4 linked regions of the Homo sapiens genome follow. The protein of the gene in region 1 interacts with the protein of each later gene in a pairwise test. Each region holds a gene or a part of one and is shown on either strand. Other genes may lie near its edges. The genes, in order: EPN2, MID1, DAZAP2 and THOP1.

The links.
Region 2: the proteins of EPN2 (region 1) and MID1 interact in binary tests that used the Homo sapiens proteins (3 or more experiments, as listed by UniProt).
Region 3: the proteins of EPN2 (region 1) and DAZAP2 interact in binary tests that used the Homo sapiens proteins (3 or more experiments, as listed by UniProt).
Region 4: the proteins of EPN2 (region 1) and THOP1 interact in binary tests that used the Homo sapiens proteins (3 or more experiments, as listed by UniProt).

The regions. Positions count from the first base shown.
Region 1 is NC_000017.11:19,240,352-19,247,375, forward strand, and holds part of EPN2 (epsin-2), read left to right. Parts: intron 1-7,024. UniProt on the Homo sapiens protein: Plays a role in the formation of clathrin-coated invaginations and endocytosis.
Region 2 is NC_000023.11:10,561,565-10,568,588, reverse strand, and holds part of MID1 (E3 ubiquitin-protein ligase Midline-1), read left to right. Parts: intron 1-985; 5' UTR 986-1,041; coding exon 1,042-1,701; intron 1,702-7,024. UniProt on the Homo sapiens protein: Has E3 ubiquitin ligase activity towards IGBP1, promoting its monoubiquitination, which results in deprotection of the catalytic subunit of protein phosphatase PP2A, and its subsequent degradation by polyubiquitination.
Region 3 is NC_000012.12:51,234,141-51,241,825, forward strand, and holds the start of DAZAP2 (DAZ-associated protein 2), read left to right. Parts: upstream 1-4,685; 5' UTR 4,686-4,767; coding exon 4,768-4,780; intron 4,781-6,202; coding exon 6,203-6,321; intron 6,322-6,730; coding exon 6,731-6,976; intron 6,977-7,685. UniProt on the Homo sapiens protein: In unstressed cells, promotes SIAH1-mediated polyubiquitination and degradation of the serine/threonine-protein kinase HIPK2, probably by acting as a loading factor that potentiates complex formation between HIPK2 and ubiquitin ligase SIAH1.
Region 4 is NC_000019.10:2,802,500-2,809,523, forward strand, and holds part of THOP1 (thimet oligopeptidase), read left to right. Parts: exon of another isoform or gene 1-1,696; intron 1,697-2,111; exon of another isoform or gene 2,112-2,156; intron 2,157-2,516; coding exon 2,517-2,677; intron 2,678-4,417; coding exon 4,418-4,553; intron 4,554-4,942; coding exon 4,943-5,309; intron 5,310-5,743; coding exon 5,744-5,945; intron 5,946-7,024. UniProt on the Homo sapiens protein: Involved in the metabolism of neuropeptides under 20 amino acid residues long. Involved in cytoplasmic peptide degradation. Able to degrade the amyloid-beta precursor protein and generate amyloidogenic fragments.

The sequences.
Region 1 (7,024 bases):
TTCTCCTGCCTAACCTCCCGAGTAGCTGGGACTACAGGCGTGTGCCACCATGCCCGGCTAATTTTTGTATTTTTAGTAGAGATAGGGTTTTGCCATGCTGGCCAGGCTGATCTCGAACTCCTGACTTCAAGTGATCCACCTATCTTGGCCTCCCAAAGTGCTGGGATTACAGGTGTGAGCCACCATGGCCGGCCTTGGATTCGGGGAAGTTGAGGCTGGAAAAGATGTGAGGAATTACGTAGTTTGTATCCCTTTTTTGTCTGCTGGACTTTTAACTCATGTATTCGGTGTAAACAGACCTCTTCTGTCAATACTTTGCCGTCTAGCTCGTCCGATGTTTGGCCCCTTTTTCTCTGCTATCCTACCTTCACCAACCCACACAGTCTGCTGGTGCACTTACGACATTGTCCGTGTATCTGGGGCTCTTGTGACACTGTGACGTCTTTGAGGCCAGTGGTCAGCTTGTCTTTACTTCTCCAGTACCAGGCTCGGTCTCTGATAGATGGTAGATGCTCAGTAAAGGTTTGTCACCAGTATTCCTCGAGGCAGGGGAGCACATTTTTATGGCTCCCTACTGTTCTGTCGCACTGTTGCTGAAATCACTACTGTTGGTTCAGCAATTGTGTGTCAGTTGCATAGGTTTATCCACCTCATCTGCAGGTGAGGAAACTGAGGCCTAGGGAGCTTAAGTTACATGCTCGAGGTCGCGCAGCCAGTAAGTGATTTGAACAGATCTGTTGGACTCCAAAATGTTATTATACCTGTTACCTACTTCGAGGACCAAGTCTCATGGGGATGAAGAGACACACTGCAAGTTAACAGTGGACTGAGGGAGGTGGGGTGATATGATTAAGGTGGTTGAGGATGGGAAGAGCACATTTGTTTTTTGTCAGATGCATTGTGAAATGAATGTTTATGTCCATCTGTTGAGTTTTTGAAAATTGACAAACTTGCCGGGCATGGTGGCTCACGCCTGTAATTCCAGCACTTTGGGAGGCCAAAGCGGCCGGATCACCCTGAGGTCAAGGGATCGAGACCATTCTGGCCAACATGGTGAAACCCCATCTCTACTAAAAATACAAAAATTAGCTGGGCGTGGTGGTGCACACCTGTAGTCCCAGCTACTCGGGAGGCTGAGGCAGGAGAATCACTTGAACCTGGGAGGCAGAGGTTGCAGTGAGCCGAGATCGCACCACTGTGCTCCAGCTTGGCGACAGAGCAAGACTCTGTCTCAAAAAAAAAAAAAAAAAAAAAATTGACAAACTTTCTGATAAGTTCGTCAATGGAATTTTATTGCTTAACTAGTTCATTCAAGTTAACTAAAAATAGAAACTTAGAAAAACAAATACAGTGAAATAAGTATATGTTGAAAGCCGTTTCAGCAGCCTTTTTTTAAACCACTGTAATTTCCATCAACATTTAACATAGGGATTATCACCCATTTGTGAGTAGAAAAACTGAGGCCCAGAGAGGTTAAGTAAGCTGTGAGGAACTGGCACAGCCAGGATTCAAAGTGAATCTGTGTAATTCCCAGGCCTGGGTCCCTTCTGCTCCACTGGCCCCTGTAGAAGGCCCCACAAAATAATAGGTATTCATTTAAATAATAGAATAAATTTGTTGTCTGAAAGTCACCACCAAGTTTATTTAGAAGGTTGGGAATTGTGAATAACGAGATTTCTGGCTCTTTCCTAACCTTAGAACCTTTGAAAACACTGTGGTTTGAATGTCAATAATTAATGGATCATTTTAGCTGAGAGACACTAGATTTGGTGTTTGATCTGAAAAAAAAAAAAAAAAAGCCTAGGCCAGCCACGGTGGCTCATGCCTGTAATCCCAGCATTTTGGGAGGCTGAGGTGGGCGGATCACTTGAGGCCTAGAGTTTTTGAGACGAGTCTGGCCAGTATGGCAAAACCCTGTCTTGACCAAAAAAATACAAAAATTAGCCGGGCATAGTGGCATACACCTGTAGTCCCAGCTACTCAGGAGGCTGAGGCAGGAAAATCACTTGAACCTGGGAAGGGGAGGTTGCAGTGAGTCTCCAGCCTGGGTGACAGAGCAAGACTCTTGTCTCAAAAAACAAAAACAAAAAACCTGTCTTCTTTTGAACCAGATCCGCAACATTGTTAAAATGCTCCCTATCCATGCATTGGATTCTTTCTGTGACTCATTCCCCTAGTACCTAGGTGCTGGAGCCTGCTTCGTTCCTGGGCATAGAAAGTCCTTTTCCTGATTCTGTTTCCTGTTGGTCCTGGTCTAGGCAGAGTGTGCTTCACTTTCAAGCCCTCTAGAGACAGGACAGGTAACTTAATTCTCTTTCTGTTCAAAGCAATACAAGGAATTGGACATGCAAAGGGCTGTAAATAAAGGGACTCCCCATCTTCTCTTCATGGTAACCCTGCTGATATATAGAACAGGGAAAAGTAGGCTCATCCTGGGGGACGGCTGATTGTTTAGGGCTAATGCATGATGTGGATTTAAAAGCATTTATAATTAATCACTTCTGAGTGCAGGCTTCATTTTTCCTCTTGGTCCCACCCCTCTTAGGTAGTTGCACGTTGCAGCAGCTCGATAGCTGAGAACACCAAGTGGTACAGTTAATTTGGCTTCAAAGGCCATGTGGCAGATAGCTTTGGAATGAGGTGTGGGTACTAATGGGCCTCCTGGCTGGGTGGCTTTGGGCACTTTAATCACTGAGCTTTGGTGTCCTCATCTCTAAAGGGGGGCTCGTAATCACTACTTCATGAAATAGACTAGCCTTGTTTCTCAAACTCCTGTGTGCAGCAGAAGCACCCAGAGGGCTTGCTGAACACGTGGCTGGGGCTGCACCCCATTGTTTCTCATTAGGGAGGGGAGGCCTGAGAATGTGTCTTTTTTTTTTTTTTTTTGAGACAGAGTCTTGTTCTGTTGCCCAGGCTGGAGTGCGGTGGCGCGATCTTGGTTCGCTGCACTCCACCTCCCAGGTTAAAGCGATTTTTCTGCCTCAGCTTCCTGAGTAGCTGGGATTACAGGTGTGTGCTACCATGCCTGGCTAATTTTTTTTTTTTTTTTTTTTTTTTTTTTGAGACGGAGTCTCGCTGTCTCCCAGCCTGGAGTGCAGCGGCGCGATCTCAGCTCACTGCAAGCTCCGCCTCCCGGGTTCACGCCATTCTCCTGCCTCAGCCTCCCGAGTAGCTGGGACTACAGGCACCCGCCACCACACCCGGCTAATTTTTTTGTATTTTTAATAGAGATGGGGTTTCACCGTGTTAGCCAGGATGGTCTCGATCTCCTGACCTTGTGATCCGCCTGCCTCGGCCTCCCAAACTGCTGGGATTACAGGCATGAGCCACTGCGCCCGGCCATGCCCGGCTAATTTTTTGTATTTTTAGTAGAGATGGGGTTTTACCACGTTGGCCAGACTGGTCTCAAACTCCTGACCTCAAGTGATCCGCTTGTCTTGGCCTCCCAAAGTGCTGGGATTACAGGTATGAGCCACTGTGCCTGGCAGAGAATGTGTATTTTTAGCCAGCTTCCAAGTGCTGCTGATGCTGCCAGTCTAGGGACCAAATTTGGGAACCTTGGCCCAGAGGACTTTATGGGAAGGTGTGTAAGATGTCTAGCACCTGCTGGCTGTGCAGTAGGAACTCAAAAATGACACTGAAATGTTTCTGAATATTGGTCTGAAGATGATGGATGGCGTGACATTTGGAAAGGAAATGGGGAGAGAAGATGTCATTGTCCTTCAAAAAGGCTGTAAATCTTGGATGCTGTTGAAAAAGCAGGTTCATCATTCTCACACATCATGTAAGAAGTTTACTGTCTAGGCCTTTTAGAATTGTAACTTGGGGGCTGGGTGCAGTGGCTCATGCTTGTAATCCCAGCACTGGGAGGCTGAGGCTGGTGGATCACTTGAGGCCAGGAGTTGGAGACCAGCATGGCCAACATGGCGAAACCCCATTTCTACTAAAAATACAAAAATGAGCCAGGTGTGGTGGCGTGGGCCTGTAGTCCCAACTACTCGAGAGGCTGAGGCACGAGAATTGCTTGAACCTGGGAGGCGGAGGTTGCAGTGAGCCGAGATTGTGCCACTACACTCCAGACTGTGTGAGGGAGTGTGACTCTTCTCAAAAAAAAAAAAAAAAGAAAGAATTGTAACTTGAAAAGGTTGAGGGAGTAATGTTGTTGGGTCCTGGATTCCCACGGGGCCACTTGGCATGGACCACTGGTGTTAATGGAAGTTGCTTCTCCTCCCTGCAGCAATTCAGATTTAATATTCTTTCATGTTTACAGTTCGAATTTTTTTTCTTCAGTGGTAATTATCAACTTGTCCATCAAAACCGAATGTGCAGGGAGGTGTGTGTGAGCCCCGATGGTTTTTGAATATTTCCTGTGTGCGAGGCCTTATATTACTAATTTTATGCACTGTGTTTAATTTTCATGGTGGTCCTGCAAGCCCTATCACCATTTCTCATTTTGCATTTTAAAAAACTAAGAGGGGTTCAGTAACCTGCCCCAGGCCATACAGTTAGTATGAACTCCTGCTGGTATGCCCCAGCTGGTATTTGCTGCCACCTGTGTCAAACTCAGAACTGCTTTATTTCCACGACCTCATTTGCAGCTGTGCCAGGTGCGCCCATTACCTCACTGTACCCTCACAACAACCCCAAGAGGTAGGCTGAGCAAGCTGAGGCTCGGAAGAGGCAAGCTTGGTCATGGGCACCTGGCCAGTGGCTGGCTGGACCTGAATTCAGTCCCACACCTGTCTGATTTTGGAGCTTTATGAAGTTGTTTCTATGATAACAGCTTACCTCTCTGTCAGGTGGCCCTAAGCTGCCTGGATGTGTACAGCAGGGACCTAGGGCTACCCTAGATGGCTTGACCCCAAGGAAGTCTGTGTGGGCTAGTAAGGGTTTTTGTGTTTGCAGAGCTGTGTTAAAATAATTGGCCAAATTTTTCCTTGAGCGAAGGGGACATTTCTTTTTACTTTGTGATCCTGCAGCTCTGCACACTGGTGTGGGTACTAAGGACTGAAAACCCTCTACTAATGCTACTTTGTTAAAAGGGGGTCAAATATGGAATTTGGTAGTCTTTTTTTTTTTTTTTTGAGTTGGAGTCTCTGTTGCCAGGCTGGAGTGCAGTGGCGGGATCTCAGCTCACTGCAGCGGCGGGATCTCAGCTCACTGCAGCCTCTGCCTCCCAGGTTCAAGCAATCCTCCTGCCTCAGCCTCCCGAGTAGCTGGGACTATAGGCATGTGCCACCACACCCAGCTAATTTTTATATTTTTAGTAGAGATGGGGTTTTGCCATGTTAGCCAGGATGGTCTTGATCTCTTTTTTTTTTTTTTTTAAAGATGGAGTTTTGCTCTTGTCGCCTAAGCTGGAGTGCAATGGCGCGATCTCGGCTCACTGCAACCTCCATCTCCTGGGCTCAAGTGATTCTCCTGTCTCAGCCTCCTGAGTAGCTGGGACTACAGGCACGTACCACCACGCCTGGGTAATTTTTTTGTATTTTTAGTAGAGACCAGGTTTTACCATGTTGGCCAGGCTGGTCTCGAACTCCTGACCTCAGGTGATCTGCCCGCCTCGGCCTCTCAAAGTGCTGGGATTACAGGCGTGAGCCACCATGCCCGGCCCTTCTTCATCTCTTGACCTTGTGATCCTCCTACCTCGGGCTCCCCAAGTGCTGGGATTACAGGCGTGAGCTATCGCACCCAGCTGGAATTTGGTAGTCTTAAAAAGTTACATGTGGCTGGGCGTGGTGGCTCATACCTGTAATCCCAGCACTTTGGGAAGCCGAGGCAGGTGAATCATGAGGTCAAGAGATCAAGACCATCCTGGCCAAATGGTGAAACCCCATCTCTACTAAAAATACAAAAATTAGCTGGGCGTGGTGGCGCATGCCTGTAGTCCCAGCTACTTGGAAGGCTGAGGCAGGAGGATCGCTTGAACTGGGAGACAGAGGTCGCAGTGAGCTGAGATCATGCCACTGCACTCCAGCCTGGCGACAGAGCGAGACTGTCTCAAAATAATAAGAATAATAATAATTCCATGTGAAGTATGTCCTTCCCCAGTAGGCAATTAACACCTGGGTTCTAGCCAATGGGTAATTTTCTCTCTGGTCTTAAAATGTCCTGGGGAGGCTGGGGTGTGAGCATTTTCCCAAGGTTTGAGCACTCTTTGCAGCTCCCCAACCAAGGAATGGTAAACAGCTATGTGTTGGTGCTTGCCCTGCACTTGTGGGAGGCCCTGGAGGCTTGGACTTGAGTTTGTTTTGTGAACTCTTTAAGACTCTGAGGTGAATAAATCAATGTGAGCAAAAAGTTGTATTAAAAGGCCCCTTCCGCCCCCCCCAAAAAAATATCCTAGCAATAAAGGGACGCAGTTGTTTTGTTTTGTTTTTTTTTTCCCCCCTGAAAGCAAGTCCTCCCTGTGTGCCTTTTTTTTTTTTTTTTTTTGAAGCGGAGTCTCGCTCTGTCACCCAGGCTGGAGTGCAGTGGCGCGATCTCAGCTCACTGCAGGCTCCGCCCCCGGGTTCACGCCATTCTCCTGTCTCAGCCTCCCAAGTAGCTGGGACTACAGGCGCCCGCCACCACGCCTGGCTGATTTCTTTTTGTATTTATGGTAGAGAGGGGGTTTCACCGTGTTAGCCAGGATGGTCTTGATCTCCTGACCTCGTGATCTGCCCACCTCAGCTTCCCAAAGTACTGGGATTACAGGCGTGAGCCACTGCGCCCAGCCCCCTGTGTGCCTTTTTGATACTCAGAGCTGTCCTGGGATATAATGACTATACTATGGATGACAAAATTTGGGAAACATCTGATTGGAGAAAGAATTTGTATGTCACTTTATGAGAAGCAGCTGGGAGATGTAGAAGTATGGGCATTTCAAGGACAGTTTCATGACTGAGGCCAGTGTCAACCTGAAAAATATGGAACACGTGATCTAGAGGCAAATAATGGTTATAAATGAAATGCCACCAAGAACTTAATCTAATTGAGAAGACAAAGTTACTATTTGTGAGACAGAAGCTAGCAGTTTGTTGAG
Region 2 (7,024 bases), on another chromosome or scaffold:
CCTGTTGCTGGCAACAGTGACAAGCCCGTGGTGGGAGTTTTTTGGCCAAAAGGGTCCCTCAGCAGTTTTGTAAGCCTCCTTAAATTGCTTTCTCAACTGTAATCATTATCATTGTCATAACATAACTTATCACATGAATATGATGACCACTGAAATCCTTGTTCTAATTAACTAAATCATTGCTCTAAATATTAGTCATTGGTACTCAAACTTACTGCAGCCACTGAAAAAGCCCCCAGATATTTTTCTCCACTTCGTTCTGCCTACCCACGTCCCACTGCTGGATTAAACAATAGAATTATTCAGAAACATAATGAACACATGCCAAAAATATTGCCTCTATCACAATCATCTTTGTGAAAGTCAATGTTTTTTCTCAGGAATATATTTTGGAAAATGACATCCCACACTTAAACACGATCATCTCTGCTGAAATCCCCACATTTGATTTCATGTACATTTCATGCCCATTTCTATAGTTACTGCCTTCCTATTGTTCTGAAACCTGGTTTGGTATTGCAGAGTAAAAGTCCTTAAATCTCGTATACATTAATACGTAAGTTTATAAATTCAAATTTATAAAAGACTCTAGTTTATTGATGAATATTTCTACATTTTAATTTTCTGTGCGAGGTTAAACCTGACTCTGACACAATAAGATTATTCTGATTAAATACAAATTATGGAAATTACAGTTTCAATTACATTCTAGTTTTGAATGAAGCCTTTTAAAAAACAAAATTGAAAAAAAAAATTGCACATTTTCAGTTACTGAACTTTGAGAAAATGTTAACTGGTATATGATGGCTCAGGATGCTTTTTCCTCCTTTTTTCCCCAGTGAATAGAAAGAGAATTATTTGGAATGTACACACACTTACCCTTTCATGACCTGTGTTTGGAATTATTCTGAGATGCATTCAAAGCTGACACCCCCCTATGGTTGACCTCCCTGTGCCTAATCAAATCTTACATTCTTGTTTCCAGATAGCTGATCAGCTTCCTTGGGTTTTGCTGATGACACAAGAGAGCTTTGCCTGAAGATGGAAACACTGGAGTCAGAACTGACCTGCCCTATTTGTCTGGAGCTCTTTGAGGACCCTCTTCTACTGCCCTGCGCACACAGCCTCTGCTTCAACTGCGCCCACCGCATCCTAGTATCACACTGTGCCACCAACGAGTCTGTGGAGTCCATCACCGCCTTCCAGTGCCCCACCTGCCGGCATGTCATCACCCTCAGCCAGCGAGGTCTAGACGGGCTCAAGCGCAACGTCACCCTACAGAACATCATCGACAGGTTCCAGAAAGCATCAGTGAGCGGGCCCAACTCTCCCAGCGAGACCCGTCGGGAGCGGGCCTTTGACGCCAACACCATGACCTCCGCCGAGAAGGTCCTCTGCCAGTTTTGTGACCAGGATCCTGCCCAGGACGCTGTGAAGACCTGTGTCACTTGTGAAGTATCCTACTGTGACGAGTGCCTGAAAGCCACTCACCCGAATAAGAAGCCCTTTACAGGCCATCGTCTGATTGAGCCAATTCCGGACTCTCACATCCGGGGGCTGATGTGCTTGGAGCATGAGGATGAGAAGGTGAATATGTACTGTGTGACCGATGACCAGTTAATCTGTGCCTTGTGTAAACTGGTTGGGCGGCACCGCGATCATCAGGTGGCAGCTTTGAGTGAGCGCTATGACAAATTGAAGGTTAGTCCGATCCGCCTTAAGCCAACCCCTTTCTGCCAGAAAATGTCATGGAAATAAAAAGTGTATTCACTGCTAGCTACATGGCAGGTGAAGGTTTTCTCCTCACCTTTGTTATCTGATTAGTTTTAGCATGTTTTTGGCAACCTATAAATGTTACACAATAAGGGTATCTTGTAAAAGTTGACTGCTGCTTGTAATTTTAGCGTTGTCAAGGTGAGGGCAAATTCTAAAAATCTGGATCATTTTCAATCCATGCAGTTTTTCTGGATCATTTTCAATCCTTACAGTTCTTCCAAAGAGAGTGCTGCCTCTCTCTGAGAGAGAGGGAGAGAGAGAGAGAGAGAGAGAGAGAGAGGGAGAGAGAGGGAGAGAGAGGGAGAGAGAGAGAGAATGACAGATAAAATCTGGCTTTGGGCATTTGGGGAACACTTACTTTTCTCACTCATCTGGGAAAACTAATTCACTCTCATTGTACCTGTATCTAGTTACTGCACAAACAAAAGAATAGAGGGAAGAATGTCTGTAGCAAATGTGGGATTTTAGAGGACACGTGACCTTTTATTCCTTGTATAAACGATATCCAGCTTATTGGTGAAATTCAGTGCTCTGACAATCTCAGGTTTCACGAAAGAATTCCTTTTCGTGTAGGCTCTTTATTCAGTAAGGTTACAGTCAAGACTATTTGAACTTCATTTTTTACATGAAATTATTAACCTAACTCCAGCTTGGGGGATAATGATTAATATGACTATATGTGAAATAAAAGGATCACTTTCTAGGCAGGGCGTGGTGGCTCATGCCTGTAATCCCAGCACTTTGGGAGGCCGAGGAGAGTGAATCACTTGAGGTCAGCAGTTCAAAACCATCCTGGCCAACATGGTGGAACCCCATCTCTACTAAAAATAAAAAAATTAGCCGGGTGTGGTGGTGGGTGCCTGTAATCCCAGCTACTCGGGAGGCTGAGGCAGGAGAATCACTTGACCCTGGGGGGTGGATGTTGCAGTGACCCAAGATCGCGCCACTGCGCTCCAGCCTGGGTGAAAGAGCGAGACTCTCTCTCAAAAAAAAAAAAAAAAAAAATCACTCTCTAAGTATGGATAGAAAGCACTAGGGAAGAAATAATAAGCCAAGTCTCCACATGTTTGTTCAATTTCAGGCAACAGTGGGTCTAATTATTGAAAACTCAGCTGAGAGAGTTTGAGTGAGATACTATGTTCATCAGCTAATTTTAGATCACAAGACACCAATTAAAAGAAAGGAAGTATAAATTAAAAGCTCTAAGTAAATATATATTGAAGTCCTTCCTCTCAGGAAAAACACATACCATGTTGTTGAGCAAACAAAATGAATCACATGATCAAAAGAGTGTTATCACTTAGAAAACAGTGTCACCTTTAACAAATGGTTTCTATCACCTCTCCTTAGCGCTAATGGGTGGTTGTGTTTACTGGGACCACATAGTTTATTCTGTGACAGTGGGATTAACGGACCACATCTGGGATTTGGCTTTGCTATTTCTTGACATGTTGAGGGAAGCCGACATGCTGAAGTCAATTCCTGCTTCTCAATGTCACTTGGGCAACAAAAGCATCACCTGGGCAGCATGTTTCACTTCAAGTATCCAAAGAATTACTGGTGCAAATCCATCTTTAAACCATGTAGAGGAAGTCAAGCACAAGGACTCAGGTGACACAGACAACAGAAGACAGCCGCTGACAGGCTTTCCAGAACAGTGCATGGCAGCACAGGAGAAAAGTACCACCAAAGTTAATCATAGCAAAGGCAATGCATGTATGAGCTGTGCCTCTAGAGCAAATTCTGAAGAAATTGCGAAGGCTATTAATTTTTACAAACCAAGGTAATCTTTTTTTTTTTTTTTTTTTTTACCCCTTTTTTGGTTGGTGGTGGAGCTGAAGGGAGAATATTTAGGATAACTGAACAGAGATGTTTGATTTTTGTTTTCCAAAATGTAAACATGCCAGATCTTTGTTTCTTTATTAAAAATGTTCCTTTGATTGGATTTGCACTACCTTTTAATGATTGTTTGTTAAAACACCACAATCATAATGATGTTCAATATTTAACAACTCCCAGGCTTGATATTTATTTAAATCTTGTGGTCAGGTTCTGCTCAAGTACTCATGGCCTGTCACAGCAGAGTTATTAAATATTTACATAACATCTCCAAATTTATGAAGAATTCCTGTCATGCTCTAGCCCTCTTTGTGATAAAAACAAAACTCTTCAGTTACGAGCCCTGCACACTTTAATTGAGCCAGTGGCCTATCGGTTGTTCTACTGTCACATGGAGGGCCTGACAATTAATGATGTGGTTTCTTTTTATTTCCTAGTTACAGAAATATAAGCATATAAACAGCATCCAATGCACCGAAACACATTTACAGCCGTTCAATAAGATGTACTTATGAGCATTTGAACAAATAACTTATCGACATAGCATGTTTGTTTTAAAACATGCCACTTACGTTAGAATTTTAAAAATAATAATTATGACATTTGGATGTCTGATATTTCAGTTATCGCATACTTATGAACATATGTACATCCTTGTTTTATTTAAAACCTAAGCACAATATAAATGTTGATTTTTTTGAAGGAAGTAATAGCATACCAAGAGGACCAAAACCAAGGAAGTATATTTCTGTTAATTACTACTTTGGTCTGAAATGTGCTCTGAACATGCATTTTTCTGTAGCTCTAGGATCTCATATAGATGTGGATTTGTGATGATGTGAGAACACAGATAAAGCATGGAGGAATTTGAGGATGCTTTCATTGATAAGACAATAGATTTGCTTTATTAATTTGCATATGTAAGGACCCTGGTGTCTTTGGAAACATTTTTGTCCTTCTGTTAGTAAAAGTTTATTACCTGAAGAAGGGAATTCTGCAATTATTATGAAGAATAATTTCTTGCAATAATACTAAACTTTGGGGGACATATTTTACTCATTAGATCTCAGTATAAGAGATGTTTGTTTATACAAAAAATCAGAATATCATTTTGTACATTACAATCTTTTTCTAAGTGTAAAAGAAAAAGAGATAAAAATTCTAACATGTTGAACTCGTACAAATAAAATCATCCACATCATGTAAAATAGCATCATGTCAGTAATCTAACGCTTTCGGAGACTATGCATTGAGAGGCACTCATGAAATATTGAAGCAAAGAGAAAATTAAGGTAGCATTTCCTGAACTCTACTAAGATAAAAAGAGAAAAGTTTTCCTGCCAAGTGCAAAGGTCTCTAAGTGGAGCGTATCCATAATGTGGATATTTCTTTACATCGTTTTAATTGAATTTTAAGAAGCCTCTCAGTCCTTCAAACTTGGAGGAAAAATTTGATTTGTGAACCACATAACATATAAGAGAATTTAATATAATTAATGCATTCCAGAGTTTTCAAGGAATTAAAATGCAGTAGTCCTCTTTTTCTGTTCCAACATACAAGGTTGGAGCTCTTGTTTCTTTTCTCTAATTATACCTATAAAAATATACAAATTGAAAAAAACTGACCTTTCCTTGCCTTTCAGTTTCAGCATAGCCCCTTCAAATTAGCTGAAGCTGAAGTTCCAAACTATTGTTTTGCTATTCTTATTCTAAAGGCTGGCTGAGGAAGTTTGTTTGTATAATGCATGTTTCAACGGATCATCCCATTGTAATTTTTTAATAGTTTGATTTAAAAGTTCAAATTAAAGCTCAGCATTTCTATGTAGCACTTTTTATCTGGAAGTGAAGACATGAGATTTCATTCTTGGGTTTAATTTATAGATTGTAAGGTTCTATGTTTGAAAAATCTTTCCCAGTTTGCAACTAGGAAAGTTGTAAGTGTATACTGAGCTAGACTTCTTTTTATTATAATTTCTATAACTTGTTTCTTCTTTGAAAACCAGTAGCAGGCATAGTGCAGGTTCTAGTGCTATGGTGTGTGATGCACACACATACTTGCATATACATATACATACATGCATTTATTTATTTATTTAATATTATAATCTTCCTGAATCTAAGTTGGAGACAAATTCAAGTGACCAGTATTTTCATTAGGGATATTTCATTCTGCAGGCAAGAGATGACAACAAACATAGCAATAATAACTATATTCCCATCACTCAAAATATTTTACCTGTTCCTTGAATGTTTGGTAGATGGATACAAGTCAACTTTGGACTTGGTATATTTTTTGTGGGAAGAGTCTTATCTTGAAGGGGTTTTTTTTTGAAGTTACAAATATGTGTATTTTTTAAAATGTGTCTTTCTGTTTATTGGTTTCTAGTTTAAATCCCTTAAGATCAGGGCTCAAGACAATTGCATATGGTCTCACTTATGGATGCAGTATGCTTTAAGAAATATTAGAATAAGTTTATTGTATCTTCAAAATTTCCATGAGCTCATTAATGTTTTCAGTCTGTGTAATCAATTAATGACTAGGAGAGGTGCACTTAGGCCTTCCACTCAGAGAGTGAAATTTTCTTTTTTTTTTTTTTTTTTTTACTTTAAGTTCTGGGACACATGTGCAGATTTATTACATAAGTATACATGTGCCATGATGGTTTGCTGCACCTATCAACCCATCATCTAGGTTTTACACCCCACATGCATTAGGTATTTGTCCTAATGCTCTCCCCCGCTCGCCCCACAACCCTGACAGGCCCCAGTGTGTGATGTTCCCCTCCCTGTGTCCATGTGTTCTCATTGTTCAACTTCCACTTATGAGAGAGATCATGCGGTGTTTGGTTTTCTGTTTCTGTGTTACTTTGCTGAGAATGATGGGTTCCAGCTTCGTCCGTGTCCTTGCAAAGGACATGAATTCATTCTTTTTCAGGCCTGCATAGTATTACATGGTGTATATGTGCCACATTTTCTTTATCCAGTCTATCATTGGTGGGCATTTGGGTTGGTTCCAAGTCTTTGCTATTGTAAATAGTACTGCAATAAACATATGTGTGCATGTGTCTTTATAGCAGAATGCTCTATAATCCTTTGGGTATCTACCCGGTAATGGGATTGCTGGATCAAATGGTATTTCTGGTTCTAGATTTTTGAGGAATTGCCACACTGTCTTCCACAATGGTTGAACTAATTTACAACCACCAACAGTGTAAAAACATTCCTATTTCTCCACAGCCTCGCCAGCATCTGTTGTTTCCTGACTTTTTAATAATCGCCATTCTAACTGGCTTGAGATGGTATCTCATTGTGGTTTTGATTTGCATTTTCCTAATGACCAGTGATGATGAGCTTTTTTTCTTCATATGTTTGTTGGCTGCATAAATGTCTTCTTTTGAGAAGTGTCTGTT
Region 3 (7,685 bases), on another chromosome or scaffold:
AACTAGCCAGGCATGGTGGTGCACACCTGTAATCCCAGCTACTTGGGAGGCTCAGGCACAAGAATTACTTGAACCTGGGAGGCAGAGGTTGCAGTGAACCGAGATCACGCCACTGCATTCCAGCCTGCGTGACAAGAGTGCAACTCTGTCTCAAAATAAAATAAAAAATAAAATAAATAAAATGTATCACACTAAGTATATGGTTTTGAATCTTTCCCTTTTTTATTTAAAGAACACCTTGGAGTACTTTCTCATTCTCTGTTGCAGCCACATAGTATTTTATTGTATGGATGTATCAAGATTTATTTTTTCTGTTTCCTATTGATAGAAATATGGGTTATTTCTAATCTTTTGCTGTTACAGAAAAGCTGCAATGAATAGCCTTATACATACGTTTCTCGTGAGTGCAAATATATCTGTAGAATCACTCCCATTAGTGGGAATGGTATGTTTGCAAGTTTGATGGATATTGCCAAATTAACCTTATAGGATTTGTACCAATTTTCACCCCCATCACCAACAAATTAGAATGCCTGCTTATCCACAGCCCTGCAAATAATGTTAGCAAATGTTTGGATTTTCGCCAATCTGATAATGATATCGGTGGGGTTTAATCTGCCTTCTGATTACGACCCAGGCTGAACATCATTTCATGTGTTAGGGAGTCATTTGTTTTTCCTTTTCTGTGAACTGTCTGTCTGTAAATGTCATTTGCCATTTTTTTCTAATGGTTGATCATATTCTTACTGATGTCTAAGAGTTCTTTACATGCAGGAAGATTAGCTCTTTGTGATGTAAATTACAAATATATTTTTCCAATTTGTCATTTGACTATATGGAGTTTTGACTTTGTAGAAATTTTGTCCTGACATTAGTCCTGGAACTAGTCCAGTTGTTTCTGCTTCCTGGATATTTCTGGAATCCCCCCATTTCTCTCTACTGTACTGCCTCTTCCCTAGGCCAGTCTGCCATCATCACACCTAAATGACTAAATTTGATTCTAAATGGTATCTCAGACATACGTCCACTCTTGCCCTTTCTTTAACCTATTCTATATTCTTTAGCAACCAGAGGGATTTTTCCTTTTCTTTTCTTTATTTTTTTGAGATAGCCTCTATCACCGAGGCTGGCAGAGTACAGTGGTGTGACCACGACTCACTGCAGCCTCGACCTCCCGGGCTCAAGCAGTCCTCCTATCTCAACCCCTCGAGTAGCTGGGATCACAGGTGCGTGCCTCTATGCCTGGATACTTTTTTAGAAATTTCTTGCCGAGATGGGGTTTCACCACGTTGCACAGGCTGGTCTTGAACTCTTGGGCTCAAAGAATCCTCCTGCCTTGGACTCCCAAATTGTTGGGAATGCAGGCATGAGCCACTGTGCCTGGCCCAGAAGCATTTTTCTAAAAGAAAAACACAAGCCAGGAGCAGTGGATCACGCCTGTAATCCCAAGTTTGGGAGGCCGAGGCAGGAGGATTGCTTGAGGCCAGGAGTTCTAGACTACTCTAGGCAACAAAGTGAGACTCTGTCTCTATAAAAAATTTAAAATTAGCCAGGCATGGTGGCAAGCACCCACTGTCCCAGCTACTCGGGAGGCTGAGGTGAGAGGATGAACTGAGACCAGGAGTTCAACGTTGCCGTGAGCTGTGACTGCACCACTGCACTCCAGCTTGGGTGACAGAGCAAGACCCTGTCCCAATCAATCAATCAATCAAACAAAAACAAGATCATATCACTTTCCTGCTTAACATTCTTCAGTGGCTAACTAGTGCCCTTAACATAGAATCCAGTATCTTCATGTGGGATCTTACATGGGCTCTAAGGCGTCCCTGCAAGGTCTGGCTCACAGTTCTTCAGCGTCAATTTTTTTTTTTTTTTTTTTGAGACAGAATCTTGCTCTGTCACCCAGGCTGGAGTGCAATGGCACGATCGCGGCTCACTGCAACCTCCGCCTCCCAGGTTCATGCAATTCTCCTGCCTCAGCCTCCCAAGTAGCTGGGATTACAGGCACGCACCACCATGCCCAGCTAATTTTTGTGTTTTTAGTAGAGACGAGGTTTCCCCATGTTGGCCAGGCTGGTCTCGAACTCCTGACCTCAAGTCATTTGCCCGCCTTGGCCTCCCAAAGTGCTGGGATTACAGGCATGAGCCACCGCACCCGGATCTTCAGGGTCATCTTTTATCAGTCCCCTTACCAGTATGCTCTGGCTACACTGAACTCTTTCATGCCCTCCCCCTCTATAAGCCTTCTCACCTCTAGGCCTTTGCATAAGCAGTTCCCTCTTCCAGGAACCCTCTTCACTTGCTTAACCTGCTCTCACCCTTCAGATTTCATCTCAGACATCACTTGCATCAGGAAACCTTCCCTGACTACATCAGAATAGAGTAGGTGCCTCACCTATGTGTTCTCCTCACACTCCATGCTGTCTTTATGTCAGCACTAATCATATTATGTGTTCACTTTTCTGTCTCTCCCATTAGGTAGACCATAAATTCCATGAGAGTATGGACTATGCCTGTCTCTTCATTATTATTTCCCTAGTGCCTGTCACAGGGCCTGGCACATAATAGGTGCTCAAAAAATATTTGTTAAATTAATGTAAGAAAGAATGTTTGATAAATGACCAAATAAACATCTTCATCTCATTGGGGAATCTACGAGAATGAAGAAAATGCCAAAGTTTGATCCTGTTCAAGAAAGTAGCTAATTACTACTACTTTTTTTTGTAGAGATGAAGTCTCACTATGCTGCCTAGGCTGGTTCTGAACTCCTGGCTCAAGCGATCCTCCTGCCTAGGCTGCCCAAAGTGTTGGGATTACAGGTGTGAGCTGTTGCACCCAGCCACCATTTACTTCTTAATTCCACCTGCCAGAGAAAGCACTGGCCTGCAACTCTTTCATTTTTGTTAGTAATCTCATTTGGCTCTGCCCTGGTTTTCCCAATGCCCAGGTCCCACTGTGACAAGCAAAATACCCAACAACCTGTAAAGTAGGCCTGACCAATCTGAGGGCAGTTTACATGAGCAGGAGGTAGGCCCAGGAGAGTTCCTGGGTCCTAAGAGTTAACCCTTTAATCATTGGACAATGGAGGTGGCAAGATCGCTTGAGGCTGGAAATTCAAGACCAGCCTGGCCAACACAGGGAGACCCCATCTCTGTATTAAAAAATGAATAGCACGTGCCTGTAATCCCAGCTAGTCGGGAGGCTGAGGCAGGAGAATCGCTTAGAACCCTGGAGGCGGAGGTTGCAGTGAGCTGAGATTGCGCCACTGCACTCCAGCCTGGCGACAGACCAAGCCTCTGTCTCAAAAATAAATAAATAAATAAATAAATAAATAAATAAATAAATAAATAAATAAAAATAAGGCTCGGCGCAGTGGCTTATGCCTGTAATCCCAGAACCTTGGGAGGCCGAGGCAGGTGGATCACCTGAGGTCAGGAGTTCGAGACCAGCCTGGCCAACATGGTGAAACCCCGTCTCTACTAAAAAATACAAAATTTGCCGGTCGTGGTGGCGGGCACCTGTAATCCCAGCTATTCGGGAGGCTGAGGCAGGAGAATTGCTTGAACCCAGGAGGCGGAGGTTGCAGTGAACCGAGATCATGCCACTGCACTCCAGCCTGGGCGACAGAGCAAGACTCCATCTCAAAAAAAAAAAAAAAAAAAAAAAGAAAAGAAAAAATTAAAACTTTTTTTAGAAAGAAAGAAAACCAGCCTGGCCAACATAGTGAAACCCCGTCTCTACTAAAAATACAAAAATTAGCCAGGAATGGTGGCGCACGCCTGTAGGCCCAGCTACTCAGGAAGCTGAGGCAGGAGAATTGCCTGAACCCGGGAGGTGGAGGCTGTGGTGAGATCGCCCCACTGCACTCTAGCCTGGGCAAGCGAGCAAGACTCCGTCTCAAAAAAAAAAGAAAAAGAAAAGAAAACACTTAATCGCTGCCCTAAAGGATGCCATCTTTGCCCTTAAGGATAATTAGGTTAGAAAGAGAAGCCATACATAGAGAAAAATAGAGGTACCATACAGGTCACCTGCAACAGGTGCTAAAAAAAGGAAAGGGCCACAAACACTCCATGGGTAGTGCAGTTATGTCAGTTTCAGTGCCAGGTGTTGCGTACAGCACGGAAAACATAACCCCTTCCTGTACGTGAGAAAGGCAACGACTGTCCTGGGGAAGACAGGGCAGCGAAGATTCCAGTGCAGGTCTCATTCAGGAAAGGATACATGTGAGCTGGAGTGGCAAAATAAATTTTAACAGAGCTGAAGCTTAAGTTGGGCTTGGTGGGGAGGGACGCATGATAAACTAAGGTGTGGGGAGCCGATTTCAGGCAGTGCGACAAATTTGCAGAAATCTAAGCCCCTCGTGGAAGGTTGCCAAGGTGAGGTGACCTTGAGTGAATGCGTGTAGGTGGAAAAAGGTTCCGGGGAATGCTTGCATCGTTCTGCATCCGAGCGTCCAACAGAGAAAAGATCCTGTTTCCAGACAATACCTGCATTTGGTTTTTCTCCAGCTGAGGGACACCGGTAGGGGGGGGGAGGACAGAAACGAGCAGGGGGTGGGGCCAAGGCGAGTGGGCGGGACCGCGCGGACCCTCCCGCGGCCGACTGGAGGCCCGGAGCAGGGGCGGAGTTTCCGGCGGCAGCGCCACTCGGGCGTCGGGTGACGCTAGGCGGACGGACCATCATGTGACACGGAAGTAGCTCCGAACAGGAAGAGGACGAAAAAAATAACCGTCCGCGACGCCGAGACAAACCGGACCCGCAACCACCATGAACAGCAAAGGCAAGGACCGAGGGTGGCAGAGGCCGTCGGGGGGAGTACTGCTGGCCCAGAGCGAGCGGATTCGGAGCCCAGGGTCACCAAACGCCAGGTTTGGGGTGGGCTGCGCCATGCTCCTTGGCCGGCTGCAGTCCAGGGCGCTGCGCCTGACGCCTTCGTCATACCCAAATTACGGCAGCTTGCTGCCTCCAGGCCCTTTCCTCCGTAAACTCTGTGGCGCAGTTTGGAGCTGCGGGCTCGGGTGGTGGGGGGGCTTGACATGATGGGCATCCGCAGGAGCAAATAGAGCGCTAGCGCAGGCATTCGCGTAGGCCAATGGAGAGCCGGCGGAGGCGGGGCGCCGCGCTCCGGAACCCCCAGCGGGGCCGAACTTAACTACTGAATTGCTGGAGTTGGTTCGTGGGCCGGGGCCTGTGAGGTCTCTTTTCCTTCCCTTCGCACCCCCTCGCCCTTCGCTGACGGGATCAGAACTTCTCCCCTTTTCTGTGGTTGTACCAGTGTGTCTGTCGGAACATGATTCCCATAACGCAGGAATAGGTTGAGGGGGTAAAAAAGGAATAGAAAAAAAAAAAAAAAAAAGGCCGAGCGAGGTTGCTCACGCCTGTAATCCCAGCAGTTTGGGAGGTCGAGGCGGGCGGATCACCTGAGGTCAAGAGTTCGAGACCAGCCTGGCCAACGTGGTGAAACCCCGTCTCTATTAAAAAATACAAAAATCAGCTGGGCGTGGTGGCGGGCGCCTGTAATCCCAGCTACTCGGGAGGCTGGGGTAGGAGAATTGCTTGAACCCAGGAGACGGAGGTTGCAGTGAGCCGAGATCGCGCCACTGCACTCCAGCCTGGGCAAAAGAGCGAGACTCCGTCTCAGAACAAACAAAAAACCAAACCTGATCCCCCGCTTTTCCAGTGAGGATATTCCTCCTCACCCCTCAGCCCTGCACCCTTTTCCCAGTCTCACGGTTCACTTCCATCATTCACACCCTTTGTTTGGAAGTCGACCTTGAATAGTAATCTGTAAGGAAAATCAGAACTGCTGTTACCCACGAAGTCTGGGCTGGTTGTAGACAGGCTGTGGAGACTACCTAGAGCAGAGGCACCCTTGATAAGCCAGAACAGCAGCAGGCCAGAACCCCAGACCTGTCCTGCATTCCGGAGGGAACTTGGGCCCAGGTAGACTTAACCCCTTACTTCGGTATGTTAGTAGGAGCAGTGAGCAGTGCCTTTCTTGTCTCGTTAGAATCCAGCACCTTCCATTTTAAGGGTGCAAAGACAATGCATATTTTCTTAGTTCCAGGAATCAGGCCCTCTGGGGCAGACTATTTGCAAATCCCCTTCTGCTTGCTCCCACTAAGTTAGCTACCCGATATGACCTGCCTCATTTTGGTAGCTCTGTGTAGTAGGCAACCTTCATTTTTTTCTTGTCTTTCAGGTCAATATCCAACACAGCCAACCTACCCTGTGCAGCCTCCTGGGAATCCAGTATACCCTCAGACCTTGCATCTTCCTCAGGCTCCACCCTATACCGATGCTCCACCTGCCTACTCAGAGGTGCTTCCAGTTTGCCAGATTTGAACTAGCTGGGAATACTCTTAGGGTGGTCCTTTAGTCCTTAGCTAAATCTGACTTCACATATTTACTCTTCACAAATGCTAACATGAATAATCTAAAACACTATATAATTTGGCAATTTTTGTCGGAGTTGAAAGTGCATTATTTGATGATTTTGTGTTATTTGGCACAGGCTAAGGTGCAGAAGATGAATTTGCGTTCTGTGAGCCCAACATTAGCTATAGCAGAAAGTGATCCAGGAGAATATTGAAGGCCAGTGGAAAGGCAACTTGTATAATCTTACAAAAAGTATAACCTGCATAAGGAGAATTAAGAATTAGCTCATTAAAGAGATCTCAAATAGGAATGTCATAAAGTAACATTTTGCCTTCTCTTCTGCCTCTTCTAGCTCTATCGTCCGAGCTTTGTGCACCCAGGGGCTGCCACAGTCCCCACCATGTCAGCCGCATTTCCTGGAGCCTCTCTGTATCTTCCCATGGCCCAGTCTGTGGCTGTTGGGCCTTTAGGTTCCACAATCCCCATGGCTTATTATCCAGTCGGTCCCATCTATCCACCTGGCTCCACAGTGCTGGTGGAAGGAGGGTATGATGCAGGTGCCAGATTTGGAGCTGGGGCTACTGCTGGCAACATTCCTGTGAGTATGACCTCATCAGAAGAAACTCAGCCCTTGTGTATTTTAACTTTCTGAAATGACTTCATATTCATTCTCTTACCATTTCTGGATGATAGTTGCCAGTGTTGGTACAACTACTGACATCCAATACTCAGGCAGAAAGTGTTTGAGGGGGCAGAACTGTGGCAAGTGAGTAGCATCTCACTGGGGGCTGAGTTAACCAGATTCTTTTGTTTTCATGTCTGTCGAGTCCTGCTTGCTGCTTTTCCAGTTCATTGTGGTACACTGAACTGGTCTAGTAATGCTCCTTATTCATTCCATAAGCATTTACCATTTACTTAATATTTGCCATCAGCATGGTGTTGCACTAGGAACCCTGATAATTAAAAAAGTAGAATGTATAATCCCTAGTAAGTAGCTTTTAGAAAGATATTAACAATTTTAGTTATCATTTTTTCCTACTTAATTCCCCAGTGCGTGGGATTTAGAGCTCAAATGACTGCTCAGTAACTACATGCTAGAGATGAAGTGAATGTGTCATTAGCGAGCCTTCAGTTTTCCAGTAGTTCATTCAAAAACTGTGTAAGGGCGAAGCACGGTGGCTCACCTGAGGTCAGGAGTTTGAGACCAGGCTGGCCAACATGGTGAAACCCCGACTCTACTATAAATACAAAAATTAGCCGGGCATGGTGGCAGGCGTCTGTAATCCCAGCTACTTGGGAGGCTAAGA
Region 4 (7,024 bases), on another chromosome or scaffold:
GACACCAACACCTCACGACACCCACACCTCCCGACACCAACACCTCCCGACACCAACACCTTCCGACACCCCCACCTCCCGACACCGCCACCTCCCGATACCCGCATCTCCCGACACCACCATCTCTGGCATTAAGTTCCTGGTGCATTTTGGAGGGGACGCACCCAACCAGAGCAGAGACCTGTGAGTGTCCATCACTCGCACATTGTCATACACTAGTTGCCATGTCCATGGATGACTTCTGCCGCCCTCACCCTCTGGGCATCAGTCATCCTGCCGTGACTCCGAACCTTCCCTCCTTGCCTGTCTTCTTACTGATTTGTTTCTGTCCGTGTGCATGAGGCTTCTGTCTTATTCCCGGGTTATCATTCATTATCATTTATCCCAGTGCTCAAATCGTCCCACATGGACCCTCAGGAGTCCCTCCGAACAATCCCTGTGTCCTTGTAATGCACCTGCTGTCCTCTGAACCTGCTCTTACTGTGGGGCACATGGTACCGCAGGCTCGGCCTCTGAGCCCGCGCTTACTGTGGGGCGCGCGGTACCGCAGGCTCGGCCTCTGAGCCCACTCTTACTGTTGGACATGTGATGTCGCAGGCTCGTCCCATGCTCTCCCTGCCCCAGCCCTCAGATGCTCCATTTCTTGGAGGAGACCTGGCGCCTTTGAGTGGAGGGTGACTTAGGCACCGGATGTGTTCACCACTGCCAGGGAGCAGCATTCCTGGGCACCGTTAACAGTTAGGAAGCAGACACGCATCTCTGCACCACACATGGACACACACACTCTTCTATTCTGTGTCTGTATATCAAATCCACAAGTGCAGCGGGGCATGCCGGCACACACCTGAGGTCCCAGCCACTCGGGAGGCTGAGGCAGGGGGATTGCTTGAGTCTGGGAGTTCAGGGCCACAGTGAACGTGAACTATGCATTCGTGAACTATCCATTGCAGCCTGGGCAACAGAGCAAGACCCTTTTTCTAAAAAAATAAAAACTTCCAGGAGTCCACTTTGCAGCTTCTCTTCCAGTCCAGCGCTGCTGGGCCCCCCAGCTGTCTCCCTTGCTGTCCTTTAACTCCCGTCTCCGACCGCCAGCCGTCACTCCTGGGTGACACACTGTCGAGATGGAGAGCTGCTGTTTGAAGGCCCGTGGTCCTTGGAAAGGACGATGTGCAGGTCCCGGGAGGCCTCCCCCTCATGCTGCAGTCACTCGGCAGACAATTGCCAGGCCCACGCTGGTGCTGGGGTACAAACGGGAAGGCGGGGGCTCTGCCGGCCACAGGACTCTCAGCTCCCTCATCACCACCCACACCCACGGGCTGGCCTCCCAAAATTTCCCCCATCTGCCTCTGGCCCCCCAACCGGATCATTCTTTCCACCCTTGCCTCCCTGGGGTCCCCGTGAGCTCCCGATCATTCTTTCCACCCCTACTGCCCTGGGGTCGGGGTGAGCTCCCAATCATTCTTTCCACCCTGACCGCCCTGGGGTCGGCGTGAGCTCCCGATCGTTCTTTCTACCCCTACTGCTCTGGGGTCCGTGTGAGCTCCGGATCATTCTTTCCACCCTGACTCCCCTGGGGTCGGAGTGAGCTCCCGATCATTCTTTCCACTCTGACCGCCCTGGGGTTGAGGTGAACCAGTCTTTGCATTGAAGCTGCAAGCCTGAGGCACGGTGGCCCTGGCGTCTCCCGAGCCATGAGGTAGGAACCCCAGAGGGTTTCAGTCCGGGATGCTGCCGCCCCCACTTCTCTTGAGGCTGTCGGGCAGGGGCCAGGTGGGAGGGTGTGGCTGCCGGGCAGCGGGGTGAACTGTGTCCTGCCAGGGGTTTTGTGGGTGGAGAAGGGACAGCAGGGCTCCAGTGAGAAGCTCTGGGAGTAGGAATTGGGTCTCTCTGGAGGGACACACTTGAAAGTGGTTGAGCCGTGGGGCTGCGTGCTGAGATCTCAGCTCTGAGCGGGAGGCTCTGCCTGGGGGTGGTTCTTCAGGAAAAGCAAAGCAGGACCTCCCTCTCCACGTGGGGCCTCCCTCTCCGCCCAGGGCCCAGCGTGCTCAGCTCTCCTGCTGTTTTTGTCTTTGATGGGAGGCACTGCCTCTAACGCTGGTTTCCTTGTGCAGTGGCCGGGCCACCCTTCCCGCCACCCTCCTCCCTTCACACATGAGGTTGGTGACGGCGCCCTGGAAGCCCACGATGTCCGGGGGTTGGGCTGGATTTAGCTTTAACCTCTCTGGGGCAGGAGATCCTGCTCTGAGGATGCTGGGGGGTTTCCTGGTGGGGTTAGAGGCGGGACGTGAGAAACGTGGCAGGTGGTGGCCAGGCTGTGGGGGAGCCAGGGTATTTCTTGATGGGGTTAGATGGGGGATGTAAGAATTGCAGCGGGTGGTGGCCAGGCTGCAGCTGCTCGCTGAGGGCCCCCTTGTAGCTTTCCAGGCAGAGGGGAAGCCCACCCCTTCCCTCACACGCTGTGTGCAGGCTGTGGGCCCATCAGTCCTGTCAAAGCCACCCTGGTTCTGTCCCCATAGGAGGGCTCCCCGAGGACTTTCTGAACTCCCTGGAGAAGATGGAGGACGGCAAGTTGAAGGTCACCCTCAAGTACCCCCATTACTTCCCCCTCCTGAAGAAATGCCACGTGCCTGAGACCAGGAGGAAAGTGGAGGAGGCCTTCAACTGCCGGTGCAAGGAGGTGAGAAGGCACGGCCAGGGGGCCCCAGAACAGTGGGTCTGGAGCTTGTGGGGCCCGTCTGCTCCATGTGTGTGAGGCACCTCCAGGCTTTGCACTTGGATGGCCTCCCAATCTCCCTGGCCAGGCCCAGTGGCCAGCAGAGGCCTCCCTGTGGGGCTCTGCCGTGCCCTGGAGGTGTCTGTGCTGGGCTCCACCCAGACCCTGGGGCCACAGCTCAGGGCCCAGTTCATCCTTCCCAAGCTGAGCCTCCTGCTGCTGCTCTGAGCATCTGGCCGCGCACACGTCTCGTCCCTCCCTTATCTGGAGCCGCCCCTCAGGTGTGTCAGCCCAGATCATTCCTTTTGTCTTAAATGATGGTGCCCGGACCTGAGCCTGGGTCCACAGGTGGGTTGTGACTGGGCTATCTCGCTGTGACTGGCGTCAGACGGCCGTTCCCACAGGGACACATGTAACTGTCCACGGCGCCATGGTGTGGTCGGTCAGGTGGTCTCTGCACGTCTCCCATTCGCCATCTGGAACAGGCAGAGGCTCTAGGAGTGGGCCTCTTGGTCCCCTGACGACACCAAGTTGGTGCTTGTGCGGCTGGCAAAAGGGGGATACACGCTGATCACTGCAAAGGGATGGGCGGGCACTGATCACTGCAAGGGGACGGGCGGGTGCCCATCACTGCGGGGGGACGGGCGGGTGCCCATCACTGCGGGGGGACGGGCGGGTGCCCATCACTGCGGGGGGACGGGCGGGTGCCCATCACTGCGGGGGGACGGGCGGGTGCCCATCACTGCGGGGGGATGGGCGGGTGCCCATCACTGCGGGGGGTGGGGGACGGGTGGGTACCAATGGGGGTACAGGTGGGCACCGATCACTGCAAGGCAGGGGGGTGCTCCTCGCTGTTCAGGGACCGGGAACTCAGTCTGCTCAGATGGGGCGTGGCCTGCCCTCTACATGTTGGCTATGAATTCATGTTGCTGTTAAGCCTAAGTAGGTGGACCCGTGGACTGGGCACACCTCGACTTCCCCACTGCGCCTTAGAAGGTCAACTGGGCAATCCCGTCCTGGTCCCCAGGCTTGGGTCCTAGTGGCAGAGTGAGGGCCAGGCCAAGAGGGCGCACACGGGTGGGCTGAGTTCCAGGTCCCGGGGGATGTGCCGCCTCAGAGACCTTGCTGCTGGCGGTCGGCCTGGCCCCTATTTGGCTGGCTGCTCTGCACGCACCTGCTGGTTACAGCTGGGTTTCCTGTGGACCCAGCTGGTGGGCACATCTGTCCTGAACAGGCCTCTGTTTCTCCTCGTAAACGCCTCACGTGGCTTTCATGCGTCCTCCCCCACCCCCACTGGCTTGGTTGGCAGTGCCAGTCCTCAGAAGTGAGGCTGTGTGCATGTCATTTGCTGGTGGCGATAGGCAGAGCCCGTGAGACTGGGAACCAAGGCCTGGACATGGAGGTGTCCCCACATGCAGCAGTGATGCCCTCGGAGGCTCCTCGGACAGCCCCTGGTCCCCATACCACGTTCCGTGTGAGGCCTTAGAGTCATCTGCACCCCTTCTGGTTCCAAAAAGGCCTTGGGATTATGATAACGCTGGTGGCATGACCAGAGGAGTTGTGTAGTAACACAGGCCGAGAGGGGCAGGGACCGGAGGTCAGACGGAGCTGGATATGAGCCTTTGGCCCTGGGACAGGGCGTGCTGGCCCTGGAGGTGGAGGGAGTGGCGCCCCTGGGTGACAGTGTGGTGGTGTCGGTTGCAGGAGAACTGCGCTATCCTCAAGGAGCTGGTGACGCTGCGGGCCCAGAAGTCCCGCCTGCTGGGGTTCCACACGCACGCCGACTATGTCCTGGAGATGAACATGGCCAAGACCAGCCAGACCGTGGCCACCTTCCTAGGTAGCCCTTCCTTCCTCCTCCACTGGGGTCCCTGTGGGGAAGGTTCTCAGGGTCACCCCAGGGGACAGTCGGTGCTACCCCTAGAGCCTTGTCCTTTCCCTCCATGAAGAGGGACTTCTGACGCCTGCCCTGGCTCCCTCACTCCCCCCGAGGGACCCTTACAGAACAGGGAAGCGCCCGGGCCCTGGGGTCAGTCCCATGCTTGCACCCGGCCCCGCCGCCCCCTCACCCTGAGCGTGAGGATGCTCGGCCCCTCGAGGGGTTGCCGGGAACTGCGGGTCCTCCCTTCCAAATGGGGAGCCTGACGAAGTCGCGGCCGCGGGCGGGCGAGCCCAGAGCCATGGAGGAGCCCGCGAGGCGAGAGGCCCACCTTTCTGCCCTCCCCGCAGATGAGCTGGCGCAGAAGCTGAAGCCCCTGGGGGAGCAGGAGCGTGCGGTGATTCTGGAGCTGAAGCGTGCGGAGTGCGAGCGCCGGGGCCTGCCCTTCGACGGCCGCATCCGTGCCTGGGACATGCGCTACTACATGAACCAGGTGGAGGAGACGCGCTACTGCGTGGACCAGAACCTGCTCAAGGAGTACTTCCCCGTGCAGGTGGTCACGCACGGGCTGCTGGGCATCTACCAGGAGCTCCTGGGGCTGGCCTTCCACCACGAGGAGGGCGCCAGTGCCTGGCATGAGGACGTGCGGCTCTACACCGCGAGGGACGCGGCCTCGGGGGAGGTGGTCGGCAAGTTCTACCTGGACCTGTACCCGCGGTGGGTGAGGGCAGCGGGGGCGGGGGGCGCACCCCGGCCCTGGGTCTCCTCGGAGCCCGGTGTGCCCGTCTGAGATGGGAAGGAAGTCGTTGCCTGCTCCATGGGGCCTCGGGGATGAACCCCGAGACGTAGCACCCGTGGGCACACCACAGGGGCCGAAAATGCAGCTGTCCCCGTTTCCAGTCTCACTCAGCCACCCCGACAGGGCGCAGCTCTGCCCAGGCCGGAGTCCTTTAGGGGAGGGATGGCAGCCGGGGCCTGGCCGTGGTTTTCATGCTGCCCTGCGCCAAGCCACCTCTGCTGAGAGGGAGGTTTAGAACCTCAGAGGTGCCCGGCGGTCTGGGTTAGCAGTCAGGTGGGCTGAGGGATGCGGAGTCAGGGACTCTTGCGGTGTCTCTAGTCCCTGCGGGGCCTGACGCTGCCTCCCTCCCCAGGGAAGGAAAGTACGGGCACGCGGCCTGCTTTGGCCTGCAGCCCGGCTGCCTGCGGCAGGATGGGAGCCGCCAGATCGCCATCGCGGCCATGGTGGCCAACTTCACCAAGCCCACAGCCGACGCGCCCTCGCTGCTGCAGCATGACGAGGTGGAGACCTACTTCCATGAGTTTGGCCACGTGATGCACCAGCTCTGCTCCCAGGTGGGTGCGGGCCCGGGCAGGGGCAGGGGCAGGGGCAGGGGCAGGGGCTGCCTGTGGTCAGCGAGGCCCAAGCCTGGGGCTTCGGCTTCCGGCTCTCTCTGCACCCGTCCGGTGGCTCCTTCATCCAATGCCACCCAAAGATGGTGACTCCCTGTCATGCCCGTGTCCTGGGGCTGCCCCAGCAAAACACCACAGACCAGGGCTTACACAAGGTGCGTGTATTTCCTCATGGTCCTAGAGGCTGGAGTCGGAGGTCACAGTGTCAGCAGGGTTGGCTCCCTCGAGGTCCCTCCTTGGCTTGTGGCCGCCACCACCTCCCCGCATCCTCATGTGGTCGTCCTTCTGTGTGGGTCCCCATCTCGTCTTCTTACAGGGACCCCAGTCATGCCGGATCAGGGCCCGCCCAACAACCTCACTTGACCGTAGTGACCTCCTTAGACATCCTGTCTCTAAGTAGTCACATCCTGGCCAGGCGTGGTGGTCCACGCCTGTAATCCCAGCACTTTGGGAGGCCGAGGTGGGTAGATCACCTGAGGTCAGGAGCTCAAGACCAGCCTGGCCAACATGGTGCCATCTTGTTGCAAGCATCTGTCCTAGCACACAGTCAGCAATCGCTCCTCAGAAAGGCTCTGTCCTATGAAGTCACTGAGAACCCTGAGAAGTGCATGCAGACCTGTCCCTCCAAGGGGACCCTGGTCACGTGTTCGCCAACTGATCATTCCAGAACCTTACTGTGTGTGTTTTGGGTTCAAGACACCTTACTGCTGTACAGCGCTGACGGGTTCACGTTGAACACATGGCTGGTGGCTCTGTCACCCACACCTGAGCACAGCTTGCACACACAGGGTGTCCCCATGAGGCACATCATGGCCTCCTGGTGCTGAAGGAGACGAGACAGTGCTCTGCACAACGCTTGGGGCCTTTTAAACACAAAATCACCAAGAGCAGAAAGATGCAAACACCGTGCCCCCACTAGACTGAGAAAAGGACGCTTGCTCATAAAATGAGCCGAAGTGAGAAGACAGAGTGCGGCCCTTCTGAGGACCGTCTGCTCAGGGGCGCCGCAGTGCTGGCCTCTG